Regions from separate parts of the Homo sapiens genome. Here region 2 is linked to region 1. A link means that fine-mapping ties the variant in region 1 to the expression of a gene that starts in the linked region. Tissue or cell type: spleen. Region 1 holds a variant in brackets; the other region holds the start of a gene. All regions are shown on one strand. Distances are from middle to middle.

Evidence for each region. PIP is the estimated chance that this variant, and not a neighbour inherited with it, causes the effect.
Region 2: GPM6A starts here. The variant in region 1 is fine-mapped to the expression of GPM6A in spleen (GTEx, PIP above 0.99).

Annotation. Positions count from the first base shown.
Region 1 is chr4:175,995,421-176,003,573 of GRCh38, forward strand. It overlaps a transcript of GPM6A not described here. Among named protein-coding and RNA genes, the nearest start is that of WDR17, 66 kb to the right of the region's middle. The variant C/T (reference allele first, on the strand shown) is at 4,089.
Region 2 is chr4:175,808,496-175,816,648 of GRCh38, forward strand. It overlaps GPM6A (glycoprotein M6A), which reads right to left and starts at 3,769. Exons shown (of 7, transcript NM_201591.3): 1 at 3,696-3,769. The coding sequence starts at 3,732. GPM6A-DT (GPM6A divergent transcript) reads left to right here. Exons shown (of 8, transcript NR_125901.1): 7 at 106-267; 8 at 3,365-3,694.

The DNA.
Region 1 (8,153 bases):
ATACAGTGAAGTGCAACAAGACAGGGTACGCCTGTATATTAGCGATTAGCGATACAAGTGAAGGAATAACAGCTGTAATGAGTGGCTAAGTCAGCTTGAAAGAAAGGCATTCTGGAGTCAGTTTTTCTCGTTGCATGCCCCAGACTTCCTGCCTCATCATCAGTCGGATTACATGTTAAAATTGCAGGTCCAGCTCTCAAGCCCAAGCCTTCTGAATCTGAGTCTTGGGAGTTGGGACCCAGGAATCAGTATTTAATATATGCTTTAAGGTATTTTAGCTAGGCAATAAAATTAGAGGTTCTACAATAAGAAAGTTTATACAACTAGCAAGAGATATTTATTTTGTTATTACTGTATATTATTTAAGCATACCTTATATATCTTAAAATAAATAGCGAATATCTTAAACTGAAAAAGAATTTGTTTTATCATACTGCTTTCTAGAATTAACGCATTATTCCATTATTCTGGTTATGTCGTTCATACAGGTCAAGGCTTCATTTCTCATTGGGATGTGGCTTTGTTTGCTTGCTATAGCATGGATAGTGAGCATTGAGTACACAGCTTTGCAGTATTTACCCTTGTCTCCTCACCTCTTGTCAAACAGTTGAAAATAGAATGACCTCAACTTAAATAAGCTGAAACACAATAATGAGCTAATATTTTTTAAGGCCTCTAAAATTTCTAGGTTGAAACTAACTCTGTCCTGGAGTTTCAACCCATCTCATTTACCCTAATTTTTCTTTGTTTTTCAAATGTCTGGGAGAAAGGCCTCGATTTTTTGTAATCACAGAGACAGCTCTAACTTTGCCAGATAAAAGTATTAATAATAAAAGGAGATTTACATGAAGAGTTTTGTTAAGTGGAACCTTAGTTAAATACATCTCTTCAAAAGAAAAGTATGGTGAAACCCCTAGTGACACTATACCAATTCAAATTTTGTACTTTGTAAAGCTAACACATTCTTGAAAAATAAAGCAAGCTCCTAAACAGTTCACTACAAAGCATCTAGTTGATTGTGACAAGAGGATATTGAGCAAAGGATTTATGCTAATTGACCTACATTCCAGTTTATGACCAACTCCACTCTAAATAAAATGAACAGTACCCTACAATAGCCTTAGAAACTTCAGACTCAAGGGAAAATAAGGAAGATTAGCTGATTTTATTTGAAACTATTTTGAGTGGAGCTTATCCCAGTATTCTACCAACACATTTCCACCCAGGCATGAATTTCCACACTCAAATGTTTTGCTGTGAAATTTTAGTGTGACTGTTTAGATTTCTTCATGTTTCTAATTAAAAATTTAGTCTTTAATCATGTTTTTCTCAGGACTTGTGCTGAGTTTTCAGTTGTAAACCCAATGTGAAGCACACTTAACAAGACAGCTCTTTTAGGAATTAGATCAATTAGTCGGCTACCCTCAATTTCTCCTTTCCTCGTATGAGCTGGCTGCTCCTCACATCAAGGAAAAGCGATGTCCTGGGATTTCTGATGCTAGATCATAAGAATCTTTGCAGCTTCTGCTTGGGTTTTTTGGAACATTCATTCTTGGGATGCTGCCTCTTGAAACCTAGCCACCATTTTGTGGAAAACCCAAGCCACTTCAGGACAGCCCGAGATAAACTCGTAGTCAACAGCTGGCATCAACTGCCAGCTATATATATGTGAGCTCTCTTGGACGACCAGTCCAATCCTGTCTTCAGATGGCTGAATCCCCTGCTGTCATCAGGCTTCCAAGGCAGGAGACTTCAAATGAGGATTGCTCAGCAGACAGTCAGCCCTCAGAACCGTGAATGAAAATAATAAATTGTTGTTTTAATCCACTAGTTTGGGAGATCATTTTATGCAGCAATAAATGCTTAGAACATGACTTTTATCTTCTTCCGCTGAGGTTGGGACTCTTATCAGACTTTGTGATTTTCTAAGGAAAATAACACACTAGAAGCCAAATGATCAAAAGTATTATCCAGTACTCTAGCATCATAAAAGTGTTCTTGATTTGCTTAATGGAAATAGCTTAATCTTATCTTCTTTACATGTTTTTTTTTTCTCTAATAGTTACTGGATCAAGAGCTGAGCTACATAAATTTATAGAACCTTGCCCAACCTTCTCATCAAACAAATGAGGAAACAGGATCCCAGAGATTTATAGGACCCATTCAAAGGCATAAGGGATTATCATCTGCTTCTCCTATTTCAAACCTTGGCTCTTGTACCTTGTTCATAACTGTCTCGAGGGTGTCATAGTTTTCCTGAAAAAAAAGGTATGAGCTCAAGACAATACTGTGTGTCATTATTTTTTGTCTAAATTTGCAAACAATTTTACAGATACTTAACCAACTCCATTGTTACTCAAATTGAGTAAGAGCAAAATATTTCCATTGGATATTTTTCTCTTGTCAAAATGTGTATACTCTTAAATCTAATGTGGAATGTTTAAGTTGTCACATTTCACTGTTCTTATGTTGGGGCATTTAGTACGTATCATGCAGTTGGCATCCTTCTTCAATCAAACAGGATTTATCCTTTCCCTCCCTGTCCCTCAACCAGTACTCCTTATACTCACACTTTCAAATAGATAATTCATTTCATGGGTTTTCCTCTCACTAAAGGTTGGTAACCCTTTCATCTTTGTTTTCCTTTTTGTTCCTGTGTTCTGATTAAATTCTCATTATGTGTTCCTAACATACTAAATATTTGTGTTTAGATGTCTTGCTATTACCTCTTTTTTTTTTTCCTTTTTGTTTGAGACTGAGTCTCTCTCTGTTGTCCAGGCTGGAGTGTAGTGGCATGATCTCGGCTCACTGCAACCTCTGCCTCATGGGTTCAAGCGATTCTCGTGCTTCAGCTTCCCGAGTAGCTGGGATTACAGGCGTGTGCCACCACACCCGGCTACTGTTTGTAATTTTAGTAGAGACGGTCTCACTATGTTGCTCAGGTTGGTCTCAAACACCTGGCTTCAACTGATCCACCCAGCTCGTCCTGCCTCTCAAAGTGCTGAGATTACAGGCGTGAGCCACCGCACCCGGCCTTGCTATCACTTCTTAATAACATTTCAAATATGAAATTAATTTCTTGTCCAAAACATGCAGAAAGTAAACCATTGGGTTTATCCTTTAAATATTCTATCAAGGAACCCACTGCTTCCCCAGTCTTCAAGATTTCAAATTTCTAGACAAAATCTTCTATTCATTCTCTTATTGCTCCATTTCCTAATTTTATAGATTTTTCACTTGACCTATCTCTCATCAATCTTTTGCTCTCCGGTTCCACTGGCTTAGACATGTATCATATTCTATTATTATCATATCATATATATCATATAATATTATTCCCAAACTGGTTTAGGCATATATCATATTATCCCAGGATTACTGTGACAACTGGATCTGTCTTCTCCAACTAATTCTGTTTTAAACAACATTTTCACTAATCTCATTATGTCTTCCCTGCTCAAAAACCTTCCATGACACCCTACCTCCTATCATTGCTTTTAAAAGCTCTCCAAAATCAAATCCCATCCTGTCAATCCAGCTCCATGTCTTACTGTTCCCCAAACACACCTCCTTACTGCCATGAGAAGGAGCTCCTTATTCTACCTAGAACCACTTCCTTTCCAAATGTTTCACATTCCTCCAAGACAGGTTCAGTACCACTCCCATTAAACTTTTCATAATATCTGTCAAACTAAATCATATTCAACATCATTTTTAAACAAAACAGTAATCAATGGTCTCATAGTGATATACATGTAGTCTCATAGTGATATACATGTAGTCAAGTAGAACAGTAAGTGTTGTGTTCAGGAGAAAATGTAAAAATATTCCTGACCTATCTTTCCAATGGGGCCTGAAATTCCACAATTAGAGATTCGCAGGTTAAAGTTCATCTTAAAGTTAAAATGTAAATACTCTTAGCAATGTGTTAGCCCTGCAGTTTTTTTAGTATCAACTATTTTGTTGCATCCTTTCTGCAGAGTGAAATTTTGCAGTGGAGGGATAGCCCTGCTGCATACCTAGAGAAGCCGAGGACATCAATGAGGAAATCAAACAATAAAAGGAAGAGATGCCAAAATTGCAATTTG[C/T]CTACTTTGCAAATAACTTTTTTTTTTTTTTACAATCAGCCTTGTGCATTATGGATATGAAGGACTATAAATTATTCAGAATGTTTGATTAACCAATTACTCTCATTCTTCCACAGTGCTAGAGTTCAGATTTCTTCTTCTAAGACAAATGAGAATTGATTGCTACATTCATCCCCAGAACACTATCTTCCTTTCTTTAAGTGATAAATTTTGGTTTTCATGATACCAGGAAAAAAACAAAAACAAAACAAAACAAAAAAACTGGATTCCATTTGTTGGCGCAATCCAGCATTCTCCTACGCTGTTTTTCCCTCTTATCCTAGCCATTTGGACTCTAATGCTAAACTCCCTACCATCCCTACTACCACTAAATAGAAGAGGTTCTGAGTAGTGAAGTTTTATTTTTCATAAGTAAATTAAAAGAAAGAGGAGAGATATGGCCTTAAGTGGCCAAATGTTTTCTATTTCCCCTATGCACTTCCTTCCTGCTTTCCCCACTTTGCCCCTCTTATTGGCTCTTCCTAGTCTCTGGACTGCATACTTGAATCTCTGTCCTGAGTTCTGGCTTCATGCTGTCACTCTCCCCTGCTACAGGCCTGCTCTTTTCTCTATTTCGCTCACCTCTGGCTTCCTCACTTGCTTCCTCTACTTCCATCTAAAGAGAGTTCAGGAATATTTTTAATCTGTCCTACTAGGCCCCTGACTACGTAAGTTTTTGGTGACCTCAATTACAACAGGAAAAATGTTATCCACTTCTGGCAGTAGAAGGAACAAACAAATTTTAGGTATCTGTCAGATTACAGACAGGAAAGAGAACTTCTAAGAGTTACAGACCAAGCTTTGGATCCTGACAACTCAGCTGTTAACTCCACACCATCCCCCACAACAAAATCTTCCTATAATTAGGGATGATTGTTAATTATCCATGGGCATTGAAGCAAAATCCAGGACAAATTGTTTTCACTATAGTAAGGAAATGGAAATTAAAAATAATTAAGTTTGAAATTATGAATACCTTACCTTTGATAGCCAGTCCTCTCGAGCTTGAGGTTACAAGGGTAAATTATGTAATTCTTTCTAGACATTTTATTATGTTGGATCCAAATGGCATTTTAATGCTTTTAATACAGCTAATGAATAGACTACATCAAGTCAATTATTTTGACTTTCCATTTCTGACAGCTTTTCTCCTGTGTGAGCATAGAAACAAGAGTTTATAGGCTCAAGTGGTCAAGTAGAACAGCAAGTGTTGGGTTTAGGAGAAAAATTTAAAATATTCCGGACCTGTCTTTCCAATGGAACACAACACTTAACAACCAAATAAAAAAAAGAGCCTGAAATACTCTCTGCCACACTTGGGAAAATGTTTTATCTTTCTTTTTTAACCTGAAAATACTCCTTCCTTTTCAGAAAACATTTAAAGACAGTCCTTCTTAAGACCATTTCCAACACTGTTTATACAAAGGCCCTAAAAATGGGTCCTTCTAAGACACTTCCAGGGGTCAAGCAAGAAGAGACTATGAAAGTCTTGATCACAGCTAACATTCATAGGCAAAAATGTCCTCAGCTTTCTCTTTTTTCCTTTCTTCCAAGTTGGCTACTGTCTATAAACTCCAGAAATTAGTAGTCAAAGCATCCCCTAACCCTTGAGCCTGTGGGAATACAGGAATTTCAACCCGAGCACGTCAGTCCCCAAGGCCTCCTTTACTCTTGGAGAAATCCCTCACAACAAAGGACAAGGGAGAAGCAAGGGGGAGGGGCGCCCAGTGGACTTGGCTGGAAGAAGTGAGCGGGCTGGGGTTGGAAGAGTAACTCGGGCTGCGGGCTGAACGCAGTCGGCAACCGCGGAAGAGCAGCATCTCCCCTGCGCCTGTGGATACGCCAGTCCAGGGATGGCGAGTGCTTTCTCCTCCCCAGCTTCTCCCTCGCTCTTCGAGGTGACTCGTGGGACCCTGCGTCCTAGTGCTGGGTGTGAATCGGCTATTTCACACCCAGTTCTTCCTCCCCTCCGCCACACGCAGTCACATTCCTGGAGCTATTCCAAGCTGCCTCCGCTAAGCACCGAATAAGCGGACCCTGCCTGGAAACTTGAGCGAAGCTGAACTGCGCCGAACTCCACCGTCCAGTGACCCGAGCCAGTGTGGACGCCCTTTTAATCACGCTGTTTACCCAGGTGGAATTTAGGAAGAATCAGCCTTCAGCCTCAACCTCAAACCTTTTGTGCAAATGGGCACTTCGTTTGGAAAGGGACTAGAAATTGTCCCCAGTCTGGCCCTGCACCAGCACCTTCCTCTGCTCAAACCTGTACAAAGTGGAAGTTTTAGGAAGTTTCCATTTCTCGTGCCCCGTTTCAACTTGCTCCCCAAAGAGAACATGAAAACGTGGGAACTCGGGAGGACAGAGATCTCCCTGTAATCGCCTCGCTATTCGGATCCTGGGTCTCTTAGTCTTTCTTTATTTCCCAAATACCGCCCCCAGCACGGTAGACCGGACCCCCAGGCTTGGGTCCTGGGGCCGGCGCAGAGGATCAGCGCCCAAGCGCAGCCCCCCACCCTCCCGACCCACTGTAAACAGTCGGGCACCCTCCCTCGCCTCCAGGTGCCACCCCATCGCCATCGCCTCTCTCCCAGAAAAAAAAGTCCGGAGACAAGAGGGCGGGGGGCGGGGGACGCCAGGCGCGGGGGGAACAGAGCTGGGAAGGACGCAGTCTGAGGCCGAGGAACATTCATTTTCTTTCTATAATGCCCATTCCCGAGGCCGAGCCTTTGGGCGAGGTGTACGCGCCCGCCCGCGCACTCACCCATGGCCCGAGGTCCTGCTTCTCTGCAGTCCCCAGAGGAGAGCGAGTGACCAGACGCTGCGCGGGGCCAAGTTCTCCAAGCCGCGCTGAGGCTCCTCGCGCCCTGGCAAGTGACAGCCTCGCCCCTCCCAGCGGAGACAACTCGCAGGGCGCCTGGCGACTCTGCGGGCGCACAGACCCCTCCCTCTTTCCACCTGCCTCCTCTGCGAGAAGCCCGTTTTCCTCCCCTTCACTGTGGGTCTCCTCCCCAGAGGCCCCCACCCTGCCCCCTTTCACTTTCATTAGAGACACGTGCAAAGTCTCTCTCCTAAATACATTGAATGCACATTACAGACACACACGTTGTCTCAGCACCCCACAACCGACTCGGTAGCCAAGATAATGATCTCTAAGTGGAGTCTGGAAATAGATTATTCCAAAAGACAGGTTTCATATGATAATTTTATGTTCCCTTGTCTTCTGTGTACCATTTTGTTTCTTAATGATAATAACATTAATAAAGACAAGAGGAAGAGAAAATTCTCCCTTTAATTTATCCTTTGTCATCTCCTCTTTCTTCTACATAAAATATGTTTCTGTAATTGGACAAGGTTATAAAGTTCTAAAAACCATACACTCAAACACACATGCACACACCCTGACATACACACACACACACATCATAATATGCAGAAATCACCTGGAAAATAAACAATTCAATCCAAGAGGCAGTTGATGAGGCTGAAAGAGCACAGGGCTTGACAGTTGAGAGGATGAGTTGTAATCCTGGCTCATTTCCTAATTTGTAAAATGAAGGATCTGGAAAAAGTGATCTCTAAGGTCTCCTCAAGCTAAAAAAAAAAAAAAAATTATATAACTCTATGGGTTATTGACCTAGTTCTTTCAAGAGTCATACTGGAGAAGTTATTTCAGTAAGTCAGTCCCCAAGGTGTACACAGCTTTTTCATGCAAAGCACACCCAAAAGTATACATATCTATGCTGTGAGCAAGTGGAAGAATAAAATAAAATGGATATGATTACTTACCTTGAGGAACATTGCTATCTAATGGGGAAAAGGTGATATGAAAAATAAATAACAATATTTTTAGCAGAATGCATGGATAAATGCAGAGCATATCATTCAAATGCCACATAAACATCTGCACAGCTCTTTCTCACGTAATGGAAGAGGTATACTCCTGGCAGGGGTGTGTAAATGCACTTCAGTTACATGGGAATACAGTTATTCTTATGGGAGGGGAAAGGAAGTAGTCAACAAAAATTA
Region 2 (8,153 bases), 190 kb before region 1:
GACAAATAGGTTAGTGCTATTGAGCTAAGGATGAACAATGACCATTGAACTTTGGCTGTATATTGCTGTTTGAAATGATGGAACTGGTCATTTGATCACATTCAGCTTGATCATCTACATCTGCTAGTGACCCAGTCCCTGAGAGTCACCAAGAATTGATTCCACTGAGGCGATGGCAGGCGGGGCTTTGGTGTTGGAAAAGTCAGTGGTTGATATGGACAGCACAGACTCACATAAGCTGCTGGTTTATTACACTAGAAAAATAAGGTGAGTGACACTGTGGCTGTTATCTTTTGTGCTGATCAAAACTTTCTGGTATACTCCATGTAATTTTGAGACCTGTTTCATAAAATGTTCATGTTCAGAAATTAAAGCCATCAGGGTTTTGGCTGTTTGGAACAGTTCAGCCAATTTATGAAGACTCCAACCTGCTGGCTCTTTCTGTCCCTTGCTGTTTTCTTTTTATCTCTATACAGTTTTGTTGCTCCCTTTACTTATTGATTCATCAGCCTTCCTCTGTAAAGCCCTCCTAATTCAGCAAGGCCTTCATTAGGGCTGTCCATGAAGAGATGGTCACCCACTTGTCTGGCCACCCGAATGTGTATTCACCAATTCACTCCTAATTAGAAACCCAAAAATCATTTACGTATTTTCTCGTAAGATTTGGCAAAATGTTCTAGAAACAGTTGCATGGCTACAAGTCATAAACGCCTACCTGTTAAATCTTCATCAAAATATCTTTATTCACTTTGCTCAACCCCTCTGTAGTAACTGGGGTCCTTGTTGCCATGATTTTGTGACAATGGCTCTTGATTTTGGTGACAGATGATGCTAGGTTTATTATGGCCATAGTAAAGACCAAATTCAAAACACTCTTTTCTTTTTTTCCTTTTTTTTTTTCTATACTAGAATATCATTGTTTTGGCTGCACACAAGATGAAGTAAGTGGCTTTCATTTAGAGGCCATGTTTTACCAAAAAATATGTTTCTTAAAATACTAGATTCCCCTCAGCATAATGAGATACTCACTTTTGGGGAGGGTGTCAGAAATTGCTGGAGCAACAGATTAATGATCCCCATTTCAGTTTCACATCAGGCATGGGCTCATTGAACACAATGGCTGGTGGGTGAAGTCACCCATACTGTTAAATTATCCTCTCTCTCTGACTGAACACATATGCTTAAATTAGGATAAAAGTTAGGACTATTCTCAATTGTCTTTTAAAGCTTGAGAGGGGAGTGGGCTCTCACTATGAAGAAAAATATATTTCTTAAGACGGATGATCTTTTTAAATGCTTAAACACCAAGTATATATATTTTCGAACATAGCAAATTGCAATTAATTAATGAATCCACTGAATTTTACCTTCTAGTTGAATTTGCAAGGTCATATGAGTAAACACTGATGTGAATTTTAAGTCTTGGTGACATGTAACAGGAAAGACAAGGTCTAAATTTTAAGAAAAGACTGAAAAGCCACTTACTTCTTGCAAATGGAAGAAAACTCTGTGCTATTTGAATTATTGTTTAAGAAAATCCTATGCAGTTTAAGAAAAACAGGATAAGAACTAACACAAAATGCTGCTTTTCTTTAGACAGATCATTAAGTCTCTCCACCTAAACTCTTGAAAAATCTGTAACGATTTTGTCTGCTTGTCAAATTGCTCCTCCAGTAATTTCACAGTTACAACCCACGCACATATCGACAGAGCATTTCGATTCAAATGTAACTTTCTAACAACAAACTTATATAGAAAAGGTGTCATAGGCGTAATTGAGAGGAACAGAAGATCAAGAGTGAAGAAAATTACATCTTCTTTTCTCAATTAAGAAAAAAACCTAAATCATAAATATTGTATTCATATACATTTACAAACTGATAGACCACTAAACGTTTTTTCTGATTTAAAACTGCTTTCCACCACTGCTGCTGGTGCATATATTAATGAGGAAAAACCCACTGTGACAGAAATCTTCCCCTCACGGCATAGCCACCTCCACCCCCATAAAAGAAAGCTTTTCAGTGTTACCTGAGAAAAAAACATCACAACTAATTACATCATTTTTCTTGGTTCCCGCATCTACCAAGGCTTGCTCAGACACATTCAACCTGTTACCACAATCCATGATTTAACTCAAGGTTTTATTTAGTGTAATGAATATCATTCCTCTATTTAAAATGCTGTTTATCTTTCCTTAAGCAAATTGATCGGCCAATAAGTATCATTATTAGGTATTACAAAAAAGATGTTGTCATAAGGTAATTTATTCTAAGTTAAAATAGTCCACTGAGATGTCTTGTAAGAACAGAAATTACCATTAAAATGTCCCATTTACAATCACTGATGAAAACTTGGGCTATTTGTGCATATAATAAAGGGAGCTGAGGTTTTTTAATTTAAAAATAGATCACATGCTATTAATGTAGATTTTTGTGTTTCTATTACAGATTATCATGAATAAGGGTACTAAGGACTAAAATTGGGAAATCAACTTATCTATTATCTCTTGCTTATATAAAACCTTCATGTATTTAATATCGATGGTCCTTTATTACGTGTGTGTGTGTGTGTGTATGCACCATATATGCCTCAAAGTATGTGTGTGTACATTAAGAGAAGAAACCCAGCATAGCTAAATGGCTAAAAATATGGTAACTATACTGTGCTTCCACCCTATATATTTTATCACATAAAATACAGTTTTTTACGATAAGTGCCTTTATATACATTTGAAATTAACTTTGACAGCTGAATCTTTTTCAACACTACTCTTGAATATTACCTTTATGTAGTATTACCTGTGTTACTGCTTCAGTACTAAGAAAATGAGACCATTTTCTCTGACATTACATAAGCCCGACAGCAGACGAGAGAAACGCTGCCTATCTGGGGTGAAAGCTAGCTCCCTCTGAAGCTACCATTTGACACGTTAAAACAATTCTCGAGTTGATTGAATCATTCCAAATTACCAATATTTGACCATTTCAACCTTCAAAAATGGAAATTTCACTTTAACTCATACAGCCAGATATACCTAGACAAGCTTTAAAAACACATAAAAAAATTTCCTTTAACATTATTACTCAGAAGTTGATTACAGTCAACTATATAGAAAGGAAAATCTTAACGCTTCCATACACCCTGAAAATTTATGAACTTTTGCTCCATCTGCTTAAACCTATATTGCATCCTCGTTTTTAGTTTTTATTTTTTAAAGATTGTTTTAAAAAGGTGCACCAATCAAAAGATAATTAATGGTCTTGGTCTTTGTTCTATCAGATGTCCATGCAAAGATATGGATAATGGTTCCATCACCAAATTTTTAACTAACTCCAAATATTGTATTTGTGGCTCACACTAGGGATCCCTTGACCCAGCTCGGCAAGTGTGAAATCACGAAATAAATGAAGGTTAACAAAGACTGGTCTAAGGAATAGTTCACTACAATACCGCAATGCTCTTCTCACTAATACTCGACTCTGCATTTCGGTACTTATATCTGAAAGATTTGCAAATAATGACAACATTCGTGCCAGACATTACTGCAAGTGAGGAACAGACTAAAGGAGAGGAAGGAACAAAATGCCTTCCAAGAGAGAAACATTCATTAGCCTTACTGGCAAGTGTCTAAAGCAAACAAGGAAACTGCAAAATAATTACTTAGTTACAAATAAACGCTTTTAGCACAGTACCTTTTTGTGTCTGTCCCTCTTCCATATTCTCTTCCATGGCTACCTTTCTTCAGTAGAATCTGGTACACGGAATTAATCAAAAGCTCAATTAGATGTTGGAAAAACTGGGGGTTTTTTTTTTTTTTTTTTTTTTTTTTTTTTTTTTTTTTTCCTGGGAAGCTCCAACAGCAGTGGCTTGGGCAAGTCCTCAGAGCTTAGCTCAGGCTCCCTCGTTCCTCTTGTTTGCTTGGAGACAGGCTGTCAAGTGTAATTTCATTCAAATTACTCTTCCGTGAAGATTATCAATTTTTCTTCTCAAAGCTGCCCATTGTGTACCACTGTAAGCAGGTATTCAAACAAATAGCCTGAGAATTTTGGGGGGAAATTTGGTCTGAATCCCAGGAGCAGAGACACTATGATTCACAAGTCTTGCTTTGCATTTAAAATGGGGAAAAGAAATTGAGGTTTGTATTGAAATCTGGGCTTTAAATTGGAAACAGGCTGAGCTGTGAACAGATGGAGGGGTGTCCTCCTAACATGAAGCCGACCACCAACCCGTAATTCCCCCCTTCATTCCAGAGTGGGAAAGCCCAGATTCCCGTCGGTTCTTTATGCTGCAGCAGTGGCTTCTCACCCAGTCAGATACGTTGCAAAAAAACTGTGTTTTCCTTTTCTCTCCTCACTAAGTATTTAGTTAATTTGATTTAAGGTGCCAAGAAAGGATGCAGTTATACCATCTCAGGGTTTATCTGCAAAAGTTTATTACTAAGACAGGACTTGTAATCCCACACCTTTGAGATTTAAAAAGAAATAGAAGCGTGGCTGTCAAAGGAGTGAGTATAAAGCTCTAAGCCTGAGAGATACATGTTTTAAGTAATTATTTTACTTAGTGCCATATGACTCTTAAGTAAAAGGGAGAAAACCACTGGAAGGAAAAACCCTATTGATGTCTTTGTTATTTATTGTTATGATTATAGCCCACGAAAGCTGCTGGTTTCCAATGAGAATCTCTTGAAAGGGAATTTCTTTAAAGGTCAGTGTTAGGGAATGAGAAGAGTGATGTAAGGGAGGAACAAATTTTAGATAAGAAACAAGAGGATAGCAATTTATAATGGGAATCTGCAAGCTGATTTGGAATGCAAATCACAATGCTGCAGTCTGGCGATAATTAGCATTTGTACTTCAGCCTACTGAGTGACAGGGCACAGTCCAAGAGTCTCAATACTTCACAAAAGGTATAGCAAGAAAATAAACAGTATCTCTTTCAAGGAGCATAAACCTTTCCTAGAGTAGAAAGAAAGGATCCTTGCCTCTGTCTTCATCTCCAAATCAGCCAGCACACACACACACAGGGACAGAAACACACACAGAGGGACAGAAAGACACACACAAGCACACACACGGAGAGGCACACACACACACAAGGACACACACACAGACATAACTGTAACTCTCTGCCTTTAATGAAAAATAGCTCACATCCTCATTATCCATAGCATACGTTTCTTGCATTATAGCTTGTATTTCACATGCATTCTTTAAAGCAGGCCAGTAGCATGCTGCACATCACCCTCTAAATATTACAAAAGCAGCTATTTAGAGGAAACACAATTACTGCATTCCACTTTATTTCTCATAAATGAATGTTTAGTCCTCTTACTTGTATAATCATTTGTTATTATTTTCTCTTTTCAAATGAATTTTGTCCAAAAATAACTGGAGTTCAAATAACTCAAAACCTATCTCTTTGGAATATATATCAATGTGTATTCAAGGGTTTTTGAGAGAGCTGCTTGCTCAGTGCACAGATTGAGAGAGAGAAACCATAAGGGAAATCAAAAAGCCAAATTGTAGCAGCCTCTCTGCTTCAACTCATCCCTAGGCTGACATAACCTGGCATATAATCAACACAGAACGGAGCAACGCTCCTCATTTAGATCCTTCATTCGTTTTATACCATGGAAATCATTAGTGAAAGCAATTGTTTATTGTAGTGCCAGTAGATACAATAATGTCACCTTAAATTTTTAGAACACTTTACAATCTATAAAACATGATTACATACATTAACCCGTTGTAAGTCAAATGGGAAAAGCATAATTTTCCCCACTTTATGATGAAAACAAAAAACAAAAAACACGGATGCTCAGGGACACCTAGAGACTGGGCTAATAAATCACCAAGTAAGTCTTAGAACCCATGTCTGTTGATTTCTTGCCTAATGTTCTGATCTTAGAAGCTAATTTTCCTTCCTACTCTGTTCCTTTATGAGTATCTTCAGCATCTTCAGAAATCAGCCTCAGTTCATAGCTTTCTTTTTCACCACACATATAAAGCAAAAGAGGGAAATGAGAGGGAAAGGAAATTTTAAAAATATTCATGATTTCTTTTTCTTCTGGAAATTTTGCAGCAGAATACACTCATATAACCATTCACTTTTTGTCTAAAACAGGCTTTTTCATGTGACAATTGTTACCAACATAAGTCAACATCAACTTGTACCAATTTTTAAAATATACAAAAAAGTCCTCAGAGCCAGTCCAAATGGACTCGTCAAATGAATTAAGAGAGATGCATACACATACATAGCCTCCTCACAGCAATCACCTGTCAGTAGGCTTTCAGTATTTATTGGGGTAAAATATAAAAGAAAAATTTGCCATTTTGATCATTTTTAAATCTGTAGTTCAGTGGCATTAGGTACATTCACATCATTCTGTAACCATGGCCACCAGCTATCTCCAGGACTTTTTCATCTCCACAAACTGAAACTCTGTGCCCATTAAAAACGCACTCCTCCTTTCCCCTTCCTCCTGTTTGATGGCAGTTGAGTTGTTGATGATTTTCTCTTTTTTTTTTGAGATGGAGTCTCGTTCTTTTGCCCAGGCCAGAGTGCAGTGGCATGATCTCAGCTCACTGCAACTTCTGCCTCCAGGGTTTGAGCAATTCTCCTGCCTCAGCCTCCCGAGTAGCTGGGATTTCAGGCATGCACCACCACACCCAGTTAGTTTTTGTATTTTTAGTGGAGACCGGGTTGGTTTCACCATGTTGGCCAGGCTGGTGTCAAATTCCTGACCTCAGGTGATCCACCCACCTCGGCCTCCCAGAGTGCTGGGATTACAGGCGTGAGCCACCAAGCCCAGCCAAGTTGTTGTTGCTAATGGTGGTTTTAAGATTATTTTTTAAAATTTGGATCTCATTGGAAGTAAAAATATTTTGAACCTCCAGTATCTTAAACTAGTTAGAAAAGAAAATCGTTTCACATTATAGTAGATTTGCTTTATTAATTATAAAATATACTATATAAAGCTTAATAACTAGCAATGATGTGTCCTTATGGGGACTGAAATGCCTCATCTAATACTCTTTCCATTGTATCGTATTGTATTTGCCCCATTCTACTCTTAGTCATTTATTTAAAATATATGGGCTGTAGGCAGTGGCTCATGCCTGTAATCAAAACACATTTTGAGGCCAGGAGTTTGAGACCAGCCTAGGCAACATAGACAGTCCTCATCACTACAAATATTTTCTACTCTTTTTCTTTTCTTTTTTTTTTTTTTTTGAGATGGAGTTTTGCTCTTGTTGACCAGGCTGGAGTGCAATGGCATGATCTCAGCTCACTAGAACCTCTGCCTCCCGGATTCAAGCGATTCTCCTGCCTCAGCCTCCCAAGTATCGAGGATTACAGGCATGTGTCACCATGCCCAGTTAATTTTGTATTTTTAGCAGAGACGGGGTTTCTCCATGTTGGTCAGGCTGGTCTCGAACTCCCAACCTCAGGTGATCCGCCTACCTCGGCCTCCCAAAGTGCTGGGATTACAGGCGTGAGCCACCACACCTGGCCATTACAGACACTTTAAAAAAACAAATTATCCAACCATGGTGGTGCACACCTATAGTCCCAGCTACTGGGGAGGCTGAGGCAGGGGAATCACGGGAGCCCGGGAGGTTGAGGCTGCAGTGAGCTATGCTCACATCACCGCACTGCAGCCTGGGCCACAGGGTAGGACCCTGCCTCTAAAAAATAAAATAAAACAAATATAAGTTAACTAGGTGGTTAAAAATATGATTATATTTTTATCAAGTCAGATTTCCCTTTCAAATACTGTCTAAGAAATGTTTATAATGTATATTACTTTTTTCTTATGTGAGCTCACTCAATCCAAAACCATTATAATTCTCTTTCATTTTTCTTAATCTTAATTTGGAGCTTCCTTTAACACTTCATCTTGTCTTTATGGATAAACACATTATTATATACAATAAGTAAATATCGACATATTCCTCTATTATGTAATGCAGTCATCTTTGTGATACAATGTTCATAATATAGACAAGTAAGGAGAGTTAACAGATTAAAGAAGTTGTGGTTCCAAATATCGCATTAACTATAAAAAGTGAGGGGGAAAAATGTTCGTAGTCCCTGGGTCAGAGAACAGAGAGGAGATGTGGAAAAGAAGATCATGAAAACCTAGC